Linked DNA regions of Homo sapiens. The protein of the gene in region 1 purifies or fractionates together with the protein of each later gene. This does not show direct contact. Each region holds a gene or a part of one and is shown on either strand. Other genes may lie near its edges.

What was found. Proteins that work in one complex are often made in the same cells at the same time.
Region 2: the proteins of LAMP2 (region 1) and TMEM192 purify together in Homo sapiens (affinity purification with western blotting; 5 studies listed by BioGRID and IntAct, with this or other methods). This does not show direct contact.

What each region holds. Positions count from the first base shown.
Region 1 is NC_000023.11:120,451,909-120,459,635, forward strand, and holds part of LAMP2 (lysosome-associated membrane glycoprotein 2 isoform A precursor), read right to left. Parts: intron 4,862-7,727; coding exon 4,743-4,861; intron 3,663-4,742; coding exon 3,449-3,662; intron 1-3,448. UniProt on the Homo sapiens protein: Lysosomal membrane glycoprotein which plays an important role in lysosome biogenesis, lysosomal pH regulation and autophagy.
Region 2 is NC_000004.12:165,109,274-165,117,304, forward strand, and holds the start of TMEM192 (transmembrane protein 192), read right to left. Parts: upstream 3,588-8,031; 5' UTR 3,501-3,587; coding exon 3,474-3,500; intron 1-3,473.

The DNA of each region.
Region 1 (7,727 bases):
AAATAAAAGGGGAAAGAGAGAAGTGTTAACATTTCAGGGTCCATAGTTTTTCTATCCAAATATGTCAGATTAAACACCTCCTCCTAATAACTGCTAACAACTGATGCCCCTGTAGTCCAGGCATTTATTACATCAGCCCTTGATTACTATAACAGCTTCTTAAGCCAGCATCTCTGCTTGTAGCCTCCTCACTTCTCAACTAATCCTGCAGAATATTCTTTATAAGCTACTGTCTCTGCTTTTGTTATATCATTCTCCTGCTTTAAAAACCTAAAATGATTCCCCAGTGCCTGCCCCATCAAGCTAAATGTCTTTCCTTGGCTTCCAAGGCCCCCTATAATTTAGGCCCACTTCATTTAGCCAACTTTATTTTCCTTCTGCTACACACACAGCCTGATTTAATCAGGCAGCTCTCCAATTACTGCCGCATATGCTATGCTTCCCCCTGCTGGAAACATCCTGCTCAAAATCCTCCGCTTACTCAAATTCTACCATTAGCTGAGTTTCAGCTCAGGTCCTACTTCTCTACCAAGCTTTCTCACTACTCTAACACACACTGAGCCTTCCTTTATCACTCCTCCTAATCAGGACCACTTGTGGGAACACGGGAACACTTTTAAATCAGCCAGTCTTTTCTTTTTCTTTTCTTTTTTTTTTGAGACAGGGTCTCTCTCTCTCTGTCACCCAGGCTGAGTGTAGTGGTGGGATCACAGCTCACTGGAGCCTCAACCTCCTGGGCTCAAGCGATCCTCCACCCTAGCCACCCAGGTAGCTGGGACCACAGGCACACGCCACCACACCTGGCTTTTTTTTTTTTTTTTTTTTTGTAGAGACAAAGTCTTAATATGTTGCCCAGGCTAGTCTTGAACTCCCTGGCTCAAGTGATCAGCCTGCCTCGGCCACCCAAAGTGCTGGGATTACAGGCATGAGCTACCATTCTCGACCTAAATCAGGCACTCTTAACCACAGGGATCTACATATGGGTTCAGGGACTATGTTCCATATGCAAAGTTTACTGTGTACTTTTTCTTTTTTGAGAGGGAGTCTAAAGTTTTCCTCACACTGTCAGAAGAGATTTATGAACCCTCTACTCCCTCAAACAAAAACGCAAACAACAACAACAAAATCAGACTGAGCTCAATGTTTTCCAATTTTTCCATGTAACTCGGGAATAGCATTTAGCTTTGTCTCCCCAGCTCATTCTTAGGCTACTTGAAAGTGAGGGGCATATCTTATACTAGCTCTGAAAGGCAAAACAGGGCACAAAGATAAACTGATAAGATAGCCAATAACCATTTGCTTTAGTTATACTCTCAAACTAAGAGATTAGTAAAAAGAACACTAGGATTTGATTTCCAAGTCTCATTCTGCAATACCTCCCAAATTTTACGTGAGCTTATTTACTTCTGGTTCTTTCGAATAGGATCTTTTGACATCCTTAAGTCCAAATGAGTTATTAATCCCCAGGTCTAGGCAACTAAAGCCCATCTACCTGTTTCTGGGGTCAGAATGAAACACTATCTGCAAAGAGCTAAGCTACTACAAATACCACATTAACTCAATCTCAACGGGCAGGGGGAGAAAGAAGAGAATTATATCCCTAACAAAATTAAAATCTCGACCACGTGCGGTGGCTCACGCCTGTAATCCCAGCACTTTGGGAGGCTGAGGTGGGTGGATCGTGAGGTCAGGATTTCGAGACCATCCTGGCCAACATGGAGAAACCCTGTCTCTACTAAAAATACAAAGATTAGCCGGGCGTGGTGGCACGCACCTGTAATCTCAGTTACTCAGGAGGCTGAGGCAGGAGAATTGCTTGAACCTGGGAGGCGGAGGTTGCAGTAAGCCGAGATCAGGCCACTGCACTCCAGCCTGGGCGACAGAGCGAGACTCCAGCTCAAAATAATAAAATAAAATAAAATCTCTACACTCTATATCTTCAAAATATTTTAACACGCATTTCAGTTCTGGGAATTACTAGAATGGCCTAATTGCCAATGCTTCCCAAGTTCATTTTGACCTGAAATTGTCTTAAAATAACAGCAAATGTTGACTTTAGTCTCCCCTTATCCACGGTTTTTGCTTTCCCTGGTTTCAGTTACCCATGGTCAATTGAGCTCTGAAAATATTCAATGGAGAATTCCAAAAGTAATCAATTCATAGGTTTTAAAATGTACGCCATTCTGAGTAGCATGATTAAATCTCTTGCTGTCCCGCTCTGCACAACCAGGAACATGAATCATCCCTTTGTCCAGTATATCAACGTTGTCTACACTATCCATCCGTTAGTCACTTAGTAGCCATGTCAGTTATCAGATCAAAAAAAAAAAAAAAACATAGCATTTCCTGTATAGGGTTTAGTAGTAACTGCAGTTTTAGGCATCTACGGGAGATCTTAGAATGATACCCCCTGAGTGTAATGAGGGACTACTACACCTTTAACTAATCATCATTTACTTTTCAATCAAAATCCAACCTAAATGATAAAAAGATTTGAACAAGAGGCATTTCTCCTAGTCTCAGGTTACTTAACTTTTACACATTTAAAATAGCTATTAGTAGCCAGGCACAGTGGTGCATGCCTGTAGTCCCAGCTATTCAGGAGGCTGTGAGGCATGAGGATCGCTTGAATCCAGGAGTTCAAAACCAGCCTAGGCAACATAGTGAGACACCCCCCCCAACCCCCGATCTTGAAAATAAAGTAGCTATTAGTAAAGCATTTTCTCATTCATCAAACCTTTGTTTCATGCACACTACTGAATGAAATCAATAATAGTTAAGTATATGAATTCTGCAGGTCAATAGACTGCTTCAAACACCAGCTCGCCCACTTACCAGACTGTGTGATGTTTGGAAAAGTCATTTAATCTTATCAAGCCTCATTTCCTTTACCTGTAAAAATGAAACAACATCTACTTCCCAGGGTTGCTGTTAAGAATTAAGTGAGATGCTGCAGGTAACACACTAGGTGTGTTACTGTATACTAGGAGATATATATATATATATACACACACACACACACTAGGATATATATATATATATATACACACACACTAGGATATATATATACATATATACTAGGATATGTGTGTATATATATACTAGGATATATGTGTATATATATATATACATATATACTAGGATATACATATATATGTATATATATACACATATATATGTATACTAGGATATATATAGTAAGGTGACTTACTGTATACTAGGATAATACCTGGTATACAGTAAGTCACTCAAGCAATGACAGCAAATATCATCAGTATGTTGGATGGTGTCATATGTGCCATGCATGGGGTCAGTGGGAGGGTTATAAAGACATGAAGTTTCCATGCTAGTTAGGAAGACAGACATTCATAACAATTTTAAAATTGTTTACATTTTTATCATTAATAAAAAGCAAGAGAACATAACACAAATCCATTCTTAAGGTTACCTTTATCTTCAGCATCAGGAAATGTTGTGTTATCACCAGTGTTGTAGGAAAATGAGACGCTGTCAATTGAATAAGTAGATGCTGCCTTGGTAAAATTCGCAATCCAGGAAAAGCCAGGTCCGAACTGCACTGCTATTTTGGGACCATTCTGATCATCCCCACAAATGCTTCCATTATATGTCACAGTGCCATGGTCTGAAATGGTTACAGTTTTCTAAAAGAAATAGAAATTTGGGGGTGAGAAACAAACAGGCAGCAAGGAACACCAAGCATTTATGTAGGGCATGCCACTTCAGCCTAAATCATACATTCTCCATGGCCAGGTTGCCCTTTGCCTGGTTTGCTGTGTAAACCAGTCCCTGATTCTTCTGCTACATACCACTCCTCTGGATAAATTCGTGTATGTCTAAAAAGAAAAGGAAAACTGGCTTGAGCTGCTGTTCTTAAACTGATTTTTTAAAAAATTAGGTTGTAAGTAGTGAGGACCTTAACAAAAAGAAAATAAGAAGGCAAAGGAATTAAGAGGAGATGTCAAAAAGGGGGAGATTTTAGTGTTAGGTTGGTGCAAAAGTAATTGCAGTTTGTGCCAAAAAAAAAAATCGCTTACTTAGGTTGGTGCAAAAGTAATTGTGGTTTGTTCCTTTAATGGCAATTACTTTTGTACCAACCTAAGTAAGCGATTTTTTTTTTTTTTGAGATAGAGTCTCGCTCTGTTGCCCAGGCTGGAGTGCAGTAGCACAATCATGGCTCACTGCAGACTCAACCTCCTGAGCTCAAGCAATCCTCCAGCCTCGGCCCAGCGAGTGGCTGGAGGTACATGTGTGTGCCACCATGCCTGGCTAATTTTTAAAGTTTTTTTGTAGAGATGAGGTCTCACCATGTTGCCCGGGCTGGGTTCAAGCAATCCTCCTGCTTTGGCCTTCCAAAATGCTGGGATCACAGGCATGAGCCACCATGCCCAGATGGGAAGCTGCTTTTTAAAAGGGCAAGCTTTGGTGCTAGTACATTTTAAACACTTTACAGAAATACTTAGACCTGAACACCATATAGTCGTCTTCAGATCATTTGCCCTTAATCAAGTCCTACAAAAACTCCCAAGAACCAATGAATCAGAAGAAATATTCATTCTAACACTAAACAGAATAACTTCTGAGTGTGTATGCTTAAAAAAAATCCCAGAGTTTCAGCATTAAGTCAGTCAACGTGGAATTTCATTTGTATACGTGTATCTAAAGGATAAAGTCAATTAAATTCCTACTATAAAACTCAAAGAAAAATTAAAATATATACTTACATAAGTTTTATTTGTAGTTTCATAGCGTACTGTGAAATTCATCTGCCATTTTGCATAAAGGCAAGTGGCATTTTCTGAATCTGTCAAATTAAGTTCCAATGCATAAGACCGCACAGCTCCTGGATTCATTTAAAAAAATAATATTTTAAAATTGTACTACAAAAATTATATAAATTAAAAACAAGCTCTACCCACCACTGAAGTTCAACCAGCTCTAAAATGAAACAAAAGTATTTTATATCTATATATACACATACATATATATACATATATGTGTATATACATATATGTATGTGTATAGATACAGTATCCTGCTGACTGTTTTTCTTTGTATTTTTAACAGAATCCTATTGATAAAAAAGTTGGCATTATCCCTTACCAAAAGAATGGTTACTAGACCTAGGATGCTTAGGTCATGGCTCAGACTGGTGACATTTATTTGCCTTTTGCCTTCAAATAATCATTTCCACATGCATTTATACCTTACTAGTTTTGTTTTAGGCAATTACAGTTTGCCTGTTAGGACTTGTGGTTTTTGCGGTAAATGAGGTAAGAGGAAGCCTGGTAGGGGTGTAAAACTTCTCTCAAACCAGCTGGTGAAACATTCACTGCAAAAATAATGATAGATCCGATATTCTACCATCTTTTTGCTTTAAATCCTGTTGCAAGCTACATAATCTATGACACACGGATGTCTTCCCAAACGATTTTATTCTGATGTGATCAGATACTCTTTCTATCATGTAACCAAGGAAGCAGAGTTGCAAAGGGCTGTTAAATCCATGAGAAAAACATGAATTCTGATAAATGCAAAGTTCATCACTGTTTCACTTTAAAATCGAATTGATTAGAAAGGCTGATGAATTTTTTGACGCAAAGTTATTTCCTAAATTTTCAACCTGCTACCTCTTTAGGCAGAGAAATGTTACAGAGACAGAAAAGCCTTGGAACTTTTCAGCTAACATGGTGGATCTTCTACACTTAAACATAGAAACATTATCTATTAAACTGAAGAGCCCAAGGACTCAAAATACTAATTCAGAGGAGAAAAAATATCCCAGCAAACATGCCAGCAGCATAAATATTGGGCAACCATTTAAGGGATTTTCTTCACTGTATCACACATTACCCAAAGGGTAAGCTGTTTCCTGTTAAGATACTTGCATACTCTTTAATAATATCTGAGCAATCCACTGTCATCTACAGGTACAGACTTGCTATAGACTAGAGAAAAGTGCTAAGAGGAATATCAAGAAGGTATGCCTCAGCAACAGCTTTCAAGTTGTATAGAAGAGCCTATCGTCATGCTCTGGAGACCTGGCTGCTTTGCAAGCCAGAATATTATACTAAAGCTTGTGGTTACTGACAGTGACTAAATGCATTGGCTAAGGCTCAAAAAGACCTTGTGAGGCCTAAGTAGGTTTTATGATCATTCTTTTCTAAGTACAATACGGAAGGGAGCTGTTATACTTACTGATCCAAGGCTCCCTGCCATGGAGCCAAGAGCTCCAACTTACAATTTTAATGAACTGGAGGTTTGCTTTTTATATGCAGTCTTTTCTCGGTCTTGTTTAAGGTCTCTAGCTTTAGTATATTATTCTCCTTGTATTCAAAACATTCAAAAGTATTGAAAATTACCAAGAAAAGCCTCACATGTATTAATCATTTTCTTTCCAAATATATTAGAATAACAGGAAGAAGACCATGTAAAATAGTAATAGCATCGATAGCTTGCATCAATGTGTCTTAGGGTGTGAGAACTGACGTTTTATGAAACAAAAGGTAGAGGTTGTGGTTCAAACGTATCACTTAAAATTAAATTCAAGATAGTATACCTGGTGGCCCGTAAACAAGAGCTGAGAAACACCCTGAGGGTTCTGGCACACTCTGTTCCATTCCCTTCACAGCCTTTCTGCCTGAGTGCAATTCTTTCCACTTCTTGGTCCCCAACTCTAACTGCACAGGGACCACTTTTACTCAATATCTCTCACCTCAAACTCAGCAATTCCCAAACTAAAATTCATTCTTCTGCTTCCTCCAAACTGGGTCCCTCCTCAGCTTTGCTAGCTCTAAATGAAGAGTGGGATCAGTCACTCAAGCTCAGTTTCAGAAATAGCCTCTACTTCTTTCTCTTCAAGAAGTCCTATTGATTTTTTTCCTTCAAATCTTCTCTTAAATACAATCTTTGTCTTTTATTTCTACTCCCAATCTATCACCCCACACCTAAATTATGACAGAAAATGCCTAGATACCCCTAGAAGTGCTGCCAGATTAATAATCCTTAAGTACCATTTCCTTTTAGGACACTTTCTTGTTCAAAAACTTTTACTGGCTCCAACATTCCCATATGAAATTTAAATTCCTCTGCCTGACTTTCAAAGTAATCTTTAATCTTGTCCCATCCTATTCCTTCAACTTTTCTCAAACTATTTTCCCAGAGCACACCCTTTAATCCAGTTAAACTTGTTTCCACTGGGCTCAAATGCCATACTCTATTCAACCTCTACCCTGGGCTTCTATTGTTCCTAACACTTGAAATCTACTTTCTTCTATTGGCCTAAATGCTCACCTCAAAGATGGATTTTGCTCGCTTTTTGGCTGCCCCAAATCTGAAACACCCCTTGTCCCCTTGTTACAATTTCTGGCAGAAATCACCACCCACTATAAAAGCTGAAAACACTGGATACTTGCTTTCCCAGACTCCCTTGCAGTAAGGAGGACCACTTGTGCTAGGCTCTGCCTAACAAAGGTATCCACCCCACACTTTGAAAGGAGGGCTGCAAATGGAGCCAGGAATGGAACAGGGAGGGAGACAGGTGTGGAGTAACAGAAGCAGGATCAAGCTCCCAGGCAACAAGGCCAGCAGAGCAAGCTTCAATTTCACACTTGGCAGTGGTAGTGCAGTTCAGCAGCATGATCTGGGTTGTTGAATCCTGAACTGGGATTTGGTATATATAGCCAGGAGCACCAGAAATTCTGAGTTAC
Region 2 (8,031 bases), on another chromosome or scaffold:
TGCTAAGGTGTTCAATATGCGTGTTGAGAGAAAGAAAGACTGCTCAACTTCTTGTATGCTTCAGACCTGGGAAATTTTTATTTATTTATTTATTTATTTACTTTTGAGACAGAATTTCGCTCTTGTTGCCCAGATTGGAGTGCAATGGTGTGATCTTGGCTCACTGCAACCTCTGCCTCCCAGGTTCAAGCAATTCTCCTGCCTCAGCCTCCTGACCACAGGCTGGGATTACAGGCATGTGCCACCATGCCCAGGTAATTTTTATATTTTTAGTAGATACCGGGTTTCGCCATGTTGGCCAGGCTGGTCTCAAACTTCTGACCTCAGGTGATCCACCCGCCTCAGCCTCCCAAAGTGCTGGGATTACAGGCGTGAGCCACCGCACCTGGCCAGACCTGGGACATTTAAACAAAGCTAGCATTGAAAACTTCACTATAAGACAATAATCTACTTTATCTCCTAATATGTCACTTTCATGCACCTTCTTCTCTCGCCTAAATGAGCTTTCTATAGAGCCCTACAAATATCCTCCCTTACCTTTTTCAGAATTCTATGCATCTTTCAAGGTCCTAACCAAGTTTATGTTCTCTATAAAACTGGCCTTGTTAAGTGTTTTCCTTCTGCTTTAAAATCCTATAAAACTTATTGCCCATAATATTCATTTGGAATATTTCTTATGCTGCCTTGTATTGTTTTCCTTTTCATGGGTGTATCTTTTGTTTTTCCTAACTACACTGAAGGAGTTGGGGACTATAATATGGTTCTTCTCTATGTCACTCAGGAGTATTTACTTTCCATTGAATCCTATAGGAAATATGCAGTGTAACCATACAAACAGCACCCAGTCATTCTATTAACTCACCATCTGCAAGTGAAGGGTGAGGGGAAGAGGACTCCTGAATCCAAATGATTTTTTCATTTCCATTATTAACTACATTACCACCTGTAGAAGATGTCTGTTGTTTTTGCCCACATGGTATCTCTTCTCTCTTCTGTGACAATAACTCTATTTCCTTTGAGGACCCACTGTCTACTTCTGCATTAAGTCTTAGTGGAACCATCCTTCAATACCCTTCCTCCTCCTCTGCTCTAGGAGTGGTCATGGAACAAAAAACAGTTGGGTGAATCCAACTCTTTCCATGAGCAGTAAAAGAAAGATCATGAGGCCGGGCACGGTGGCTCACGCCTGTAATCCCAACACTTTGGGAGGCCAAGGCAGATGGATCACCTGAGACCAGCCTGACCAAAATGGAGAAATCCCGTCTCTACTAAAAATACAAAATTAGCCAGGTGTGGTGGTGCATGCCTGTAATCCCAGCTATTTGGGAGGCTGAGGCAGAAGAATCACTTGAACCCGGGAGGCGGAGGTTGCAGTGAGCCGAGATCGTACCATTGCACTCCAACCTGGGCAACAAGGGTGAAACTCCATCACAAAAAAAGAAGAAAGATCATGATTTAGGCAGATTCATTCCAGGGTAGACCCTGAAAGGACTCCTGTCACTTCAATGCCTTGAGATGCCCTTGTTTGGGTCCTTTCAGAGGCCTTGGCATATACTCACCCTATAGCCTTTCGAATACATCCTTTTCTTAAATTAGCCACAGTTGGTTTCACTGCCTGCAAACAATGAATCCCTACTAACACAAAGTCTTTGACTCAACTCATTTAAGTGTCTGTAACTAAGGCATGGTCCAAAATTTTTAGCTTTTTCTTGAAGGCTAGGAATCATGTTTACAAAATACCAAAAGCAGGCAACTTACTCAGATCTAAAGTGACTCCAATATGTGGTTGGTAGCAAAACATTAATCTCTAATTAATTTTTATTTATTTTTATTTTTGAGACAGAGTCTCGCTCTGTCGCTCTGTTGCCCCGGCTGGAGTGCAGTGATGCGATCTTGGCTCACTGCAACCTCTGCCTTCCGGGTTCAAGCGATTCTCCTGCCTCCCCAGTATCTGGGATTACAGGCCCCCACCACCCCACCTGGCTAATTTTTGTATTTTTAGTGGAGACGGGGTTTTGCCATGTTGGCCAGGCTGGTCTCAAACTCCTGACCTCAGGTTATCTGCCTGCCTCGGCCTCCCAAAGTGCTGGGATTACAGGCATGAGCCTCCCAGACCATCCCCAGGCTCCAGTGTTTGAGGAAGCAGATTTCTAGTACTATATGCATCCTAAAGCTAAAAGCTACAGATCCAAGAACGCCAGAGCAGCTTAGCATCAACCAAGAAGCACTTACTGCATGTGTTTTTCTAAGACACTCTCATTTTCCTCTTACATATTCGGTTTTTTCTGTACATTGTCAGCTCATGAAGCTCAGCCTTAAAAACTCAGAAACAATGAATTTTGCTTTAAATATATATGAGTCTCAAATCTACTTACAGGTCTTACAGTTAATTTTCCATTTTCTCAACTGGAAAAAATAGAAAATTTTAGTTTCATTAGAAATTGTTTGGTCTTTATTTCATCAAGATTATTTAACTGGTTACTGCACAAGAATCTAAGCTACCGTAATGCTGGAACTGTTTCATGTTTCTCTTCCTTTTCCTGATGCAGTTCATTCAGTGATAGGATCACAGTAATATTCCTACTAATTTATTAACCCAAATTAGTGCTTTACAGTAACTGTCAACTTTGCATTTCTCAAGAGCAAAAATTTTATTACTTGCCAGTGGAAAATCCAGTTAACTCTCAGCATACATACATGTTTCTCCTAAAAACACCTTACGATACTGAAGCAAAGAAATAAGATTTTTGTAATTATGCTACCATTCTGTACTATACACGCTGTAAACTAGGCCACTGGTTTTTTGTTTTTTTGTTTTTGTTTTTGTTTTGGTAATCTGGTTTGAATCTATCAAAGATTTAAAAACCTTTGTATTCCTACCATGCTAGATTCAAAACAACACATGACACTTTTTCTCTCGTGTGGGTTTCCAGGCCATGATAGCGACAGGTCTGCGGGACGCTGGCGCCCGGCCCGAGCGTCGTTGTCACTCCAAGTCCACAGCCTCTAGAGCCAAGGCAAGGGACCTCACCAGGAAGGGAGATTCGCCCCCTGTGCCCCTGGGACGTCCGAGCGGAACCCATCGGCCCGGCTCCCGGAGACTCGCGGGGAGGAAGGGCTGTCAGGCCAGGCGCGCATCACGTGAAGCTGCCAGTTCCGGGATCAAAGACGTACCCCGCACGTGGGCTGGGCGCCAGCCTGGGACCCCCGGGGGCCGCGCGCCCACCGCCCAGGAGCCCACCCCAGCCTCCACTGGGAAAATTAGCCCGGAGCCAACGTGTCGCGGATCCCACAGCCGCCTGGAGCCCTCCCAAAGCCCCGCGCCCAGGCCTCCCCGGGCACAGGCGGCGCCCCCTTCGGCCGCGGCCGCAGTCGCCAAGGGTGGCTTCCCTCTCTGAGTCTCCGCCCCGTGCGCCCCGGCACAAGAAAAAGCGGATTCCGGGGCCAACCGCCCGCCGCCTCCGTGCACTCACGTCCTCCATCCTGCCCCCCGCCGCCATTTCCCGACGCCGGAGGCCGAAGCCCTGGCCAGCCCGGCCTCTCCACCTGGACCTGTAAGCCTCTGGCCGCGAAACTCGCCACCTTCTGGGACCTGCCAGGCCCCTCCCCAGACACACCCCCTCCTGCGTCCGCCCCGCCTCCGGCTGGCCCGATCCCCGCCCCCTTAGCTCCGATTGGCTGAGATGGTGGGAGGGGTGTGCCGGCCCAGAAGACCTGGACTGTGGGCGGTGGCTACCGCCTGAACCACCTCGGTTCCTGGGGCTTCTGGCCGCAGCCCCTCGGTGCGCTCTTACCCAGAGACTTGAGCATTTAAGGATGCCTTCCTAGTCCAAGAATTTAACTATTTTCGGGCTCCACTTGCATATTTTAAGAACATTAACTTTTTTCGGTCTTGCCTGGTTGTTTGCAGACACAGCTCTACGCCTAGGTAGAACCAGCGGTAAAATCCTACTCCGCCAGCAGAGGGACAGGAGCAGAATAAAGATTCCAATTTCCATGACATATTTACAGATTTCTCCAATGGGAAACAAAGCAGTTCGGAATGCTTACGGCGTTCGTTTATTAAGACAGAGTCTCGCTCTGTCGCCCACGCTGGAGTGCCCTAGCACGACCTCGGCTCACTGCAGCCTCGAATTCTTGGCCTCCTGGCCAGTTCTCCCACCTCAGCCTCTCAAAGTACTGAGATTACAGGCGTGAGCCACTGGGCCCTTGTTTCTTTTAAAATTGAATTTCAAAAAGAGAAAAAACTTCAATGACATTTTCTAAAAAGCTCATGATTGTAAAAATGTAAGCAAACAAGGAAAGAAATTTTCTGTTACCAGCTCCCGGAGAGAACTTTGATATCAGTTAGAATATATACACTCATACATTTTTTTGGTGGGGCGGCGGAGACGGAGTCTCGCTCTGTCGCCCAGGCTGGAATGCAGTGGTGCAATCTCGGCTCCCAGGTTCAAGCCATTCTCCTGCCTCAGCCCCCTGAGTAGCTAGGATTACAGGCGCGTGCCACCAAGCCTGGCTATTTTTGTATTTTAGTAGAGACAGGGTTTAGCCATGTTGGTCAGGCTGGTCTGGAACTCCTGAGGTCAGGTGACTCGCCCGCCTCGGCCTCCCAAAGTGCTGGGATTACAAGTTTAGCCACCGCGTCTTGCCCACTTTCATACATTCTAATGCTTATTTGTACATTGAGTATAGTGTGATCCAGTTTAGGATGTGTGAGATAAAACTACGCAAATGTTAGTGAAGGAAGAGATGGTGTAAGACTCCACGTGATCTTCTTTTTTCTTTTTCTTTTTTTTCTCGTAGAGACAAGGTCTCACTATGTTGCCCAGGCTGGTCTCATAATCCTGAGATTCTATGAATTATTTATCACAAGCCTTTTCTAGACGTGCAAATTTTCTTCTCTGCATTTTATTTTGAAAATTTTCAAGCCTACAGAAATGTTGAAAGATTAATACAATGAACATCCATGTACCCCTCACACTTGATTCATTAGTTGTTCATTTTTTGTCTTGGTTGCTCTGTGTGTGGGTGTGTGTGTTCACATACTTTTTTTTTTTTTTTTTTTTTTGAGATGGAGTCCCGCTCTGTCGCCAGGCTGGATGGAGTGCAGTGGCGCGATCTCGGCTCACTGCAAGCTCCGCGTCCCGGGTTCACGCCATTCTCCTGCCTCAGGCTCCCCAGGGTCTGGGACTACAGGCGCCCGCCACCACACCCAGCTAATTTTTGTATTTTTAGTAGAGACGGGGTTTCACTGTGTTAGCCAGGATGGTCTCGATCTCCTGACCTTGTGATCCGCCTGCCTTGGCCTCCCAAAGTGCTGGGATTACAGGTGTGAGCCACCGTGCCTGGCCATTTTTTAACTGAACTACTTGAAAGTAAATTGAAGACAATATGAAGCTTCATTCCTAGATACTTTGTTGCCTAAAATAAGGATATTTTATATTTTCTTTCATAACCACAATATCAATATTACACACAACTAATAGTAATTCCATGTTTACTAATAACCAATCTATGGCAAAAATTTTCTAAGTTGTTTCCAAAATGTCTTTTTTAGCTGCTTTTTTTGTTTTATTTTGTTTTGTTTTGTTTTTGAGATGGAGTCTTGCTATGTTGCCCAGGCTGGATTCACACTCCTGAGTTCAAGCAATCCTCCCACCTCAGCCTCCCAAGTAGCTTGGATAACAGGCATACACCACTGTGCCTGGCCCAGCTGCTGTTTTTTCTTTTTCAGTAACCAGAATCCAATCAAGGTTCACACATTTCATTTCATTATTATGTCAAGACATGCTTTTCTGTTGTTGTTTTCGACACAGGATCTCACTCTGTTAACCAGGCTGGAGCACAGGGGCGCTATCATAGCTCACTGCAGCCTCAACCTCCTGGGCTCAAACAATCCTCCCTCTTCAGCCTCCCAAGCATCTGGGACTATATGTTCACACATCCATACCAGGCTTATTTTTAAGATTTTTCTTTTTGTGAAGATGGGACTTTGTTATGTTGCCCACGCTGGTCTCAAAACTCCTGGTCTCAAGCCACCCTCCCGCCTCAGTCTCCCAAAGTACAGGGATTACAGGTGTGAGCCACTGCACCTAGCCAAGACATGTACTTTCACAGGGACAGCACACTGGTTAAGACCAGGGCTCCAGAATTAGTCATGGAGGTTTGAGTTCTGCATCTTACCAAGCATGTGATATTGGGCACTTAGCTTAAGTTCTTAGGAGCTGACTGGGCAAGGTGGCTCATGCCTATGGCCCCTAGCATGTTGAGACACCAAGGCAGGAGGATTGTTTGGTGCCTGGAGTACGGGACTAGCCTGGGCAACATGGTGAGTCTCTGTCTCTACAAAAGATTAGAACATTAGCTAGGTGTGGTGACGTGCACCTGTAGTAGCAGCTACTTTGGAGGCTGAGGTGGGGAAGTTTTAGTTTCCCTTTTACAGAAATTTTCTTTCCTTTTGTTTTGTTTTGTTTTGTTTTGAGATAGAGTTTCACTCTTGTCGCTCAGGCTGGTGTGCAATGGCGTGATCTTGGCTCAGTGCAACCTCTGCCTCCCAGATTCAAGTCATTCTCCTGCCTCAGCCTCCCAAGTAGCTGAGATTACAGGCGTCAGCCACCATGCCTGGCTAATTTTTGCATTTTTAGTAGAGACAGCGTTTCACCATGTTGGCCAGGCTGGTCTTGAACTCCTGACCTCAAGTGATCTGCCCACCTCAGCCTCCCAAAGTGCTGGGATTACAGGCGTGAGCCACTGTGCCCAGCCAGAGATTTTCTATTAAATAAAATAATGCATGTAATGCTCTTTATACAATGTTGTCTCTACAAAGCACTAAGCAAATGTTAGTCATTTTTTGTCTAAATCAGATTTATTAAGGCATTATTAACATACATAATCATTTTTGTTTGTTTTTTGTTTGTAAAGACAGAGTCTCACTATAGGCTGGTCTTGAACTCCTGGTCTCAAGTGATTCTTCTGCCTCGGCTTCCCAAAGTGCTGGGATTACAGGCAAGAGCCACCATGCCAGACCCATTGTTTTAATAATATATTAAAAATATGTTCTCAGCCCATATAATGCTCTAATGACTGTTAAAGCAATTTATATAAGCATAGCCCTGTAAATAAGTTATATTTAAAAAGTATCTGACACTTCATTTTTGTATGACTAAAGATCTTTTGGTGAAGATTCTTGCGTTTATTTACTTATGAGGAGTAAGGAGAGGAGGAGAGAAGCTGTTTTCCTAGTGTTGGGGCTCAGAAGATAATATCGGCTAGGCGCAGTGGCTCACACCTGTAATCCCAGCACTTTGGGGGGCCAAGGCGGGCGAATCACCTGACATTAAGACTTCAAGACCAGCCTGGCCAACAGACGAAACCCCATTTCTACTAAAAATACAAAAATTAGCCAGGCATGGTGGCATGCGCCTGTAATCCCAGCTACTCAGGAGGCTGAGGCAGGAGAATGGTTTGAACCCAGAAGCGGAGATTGCACCACTGCACTCCAGCCTGGGCAACAGAGCAAGACACTTTTCAGATTTAAAAGTTTAAAAATGCAACTAGCCTGGCCAAAATGGTGAAACCCCGTCTCTATCAAAAATACAAAAATTAACCAGGTGTGGTGGTGCGTGCCTGTAGTTTCAGCCACTCAGGAGGCTGAGGCACAAGAATTTCTTGAACCTGGGAGGCAGAGGTTGCAGTGAGCCGAGATCATGCCAGTGCACTCCAGCCTGTGTGACAGAGCAAGACCCTGTCTCAACAACAACAACAAAAAAAAAGAAGAGGATAATATCACAAGTATAGTGCTTTTGCATGCTGAGTACTTGAAGTGAAGGACACATTGGCAGGCCTCAAAAGCCAAGTTTCTCTATGACTTTTGAACAAACAGGCCTTGCTGACCCTGGTACTAAGCATTAAAGTAGATGCTTGTAAATTCTTATCCCTACTCAGTCTATTGTCATTAGATCACCTGTAATCCCAGCTACTCAGGAGGCTGAGGCAGGAGAATTGCTTGAACCCGGGAGGCAGAGGTTGCAG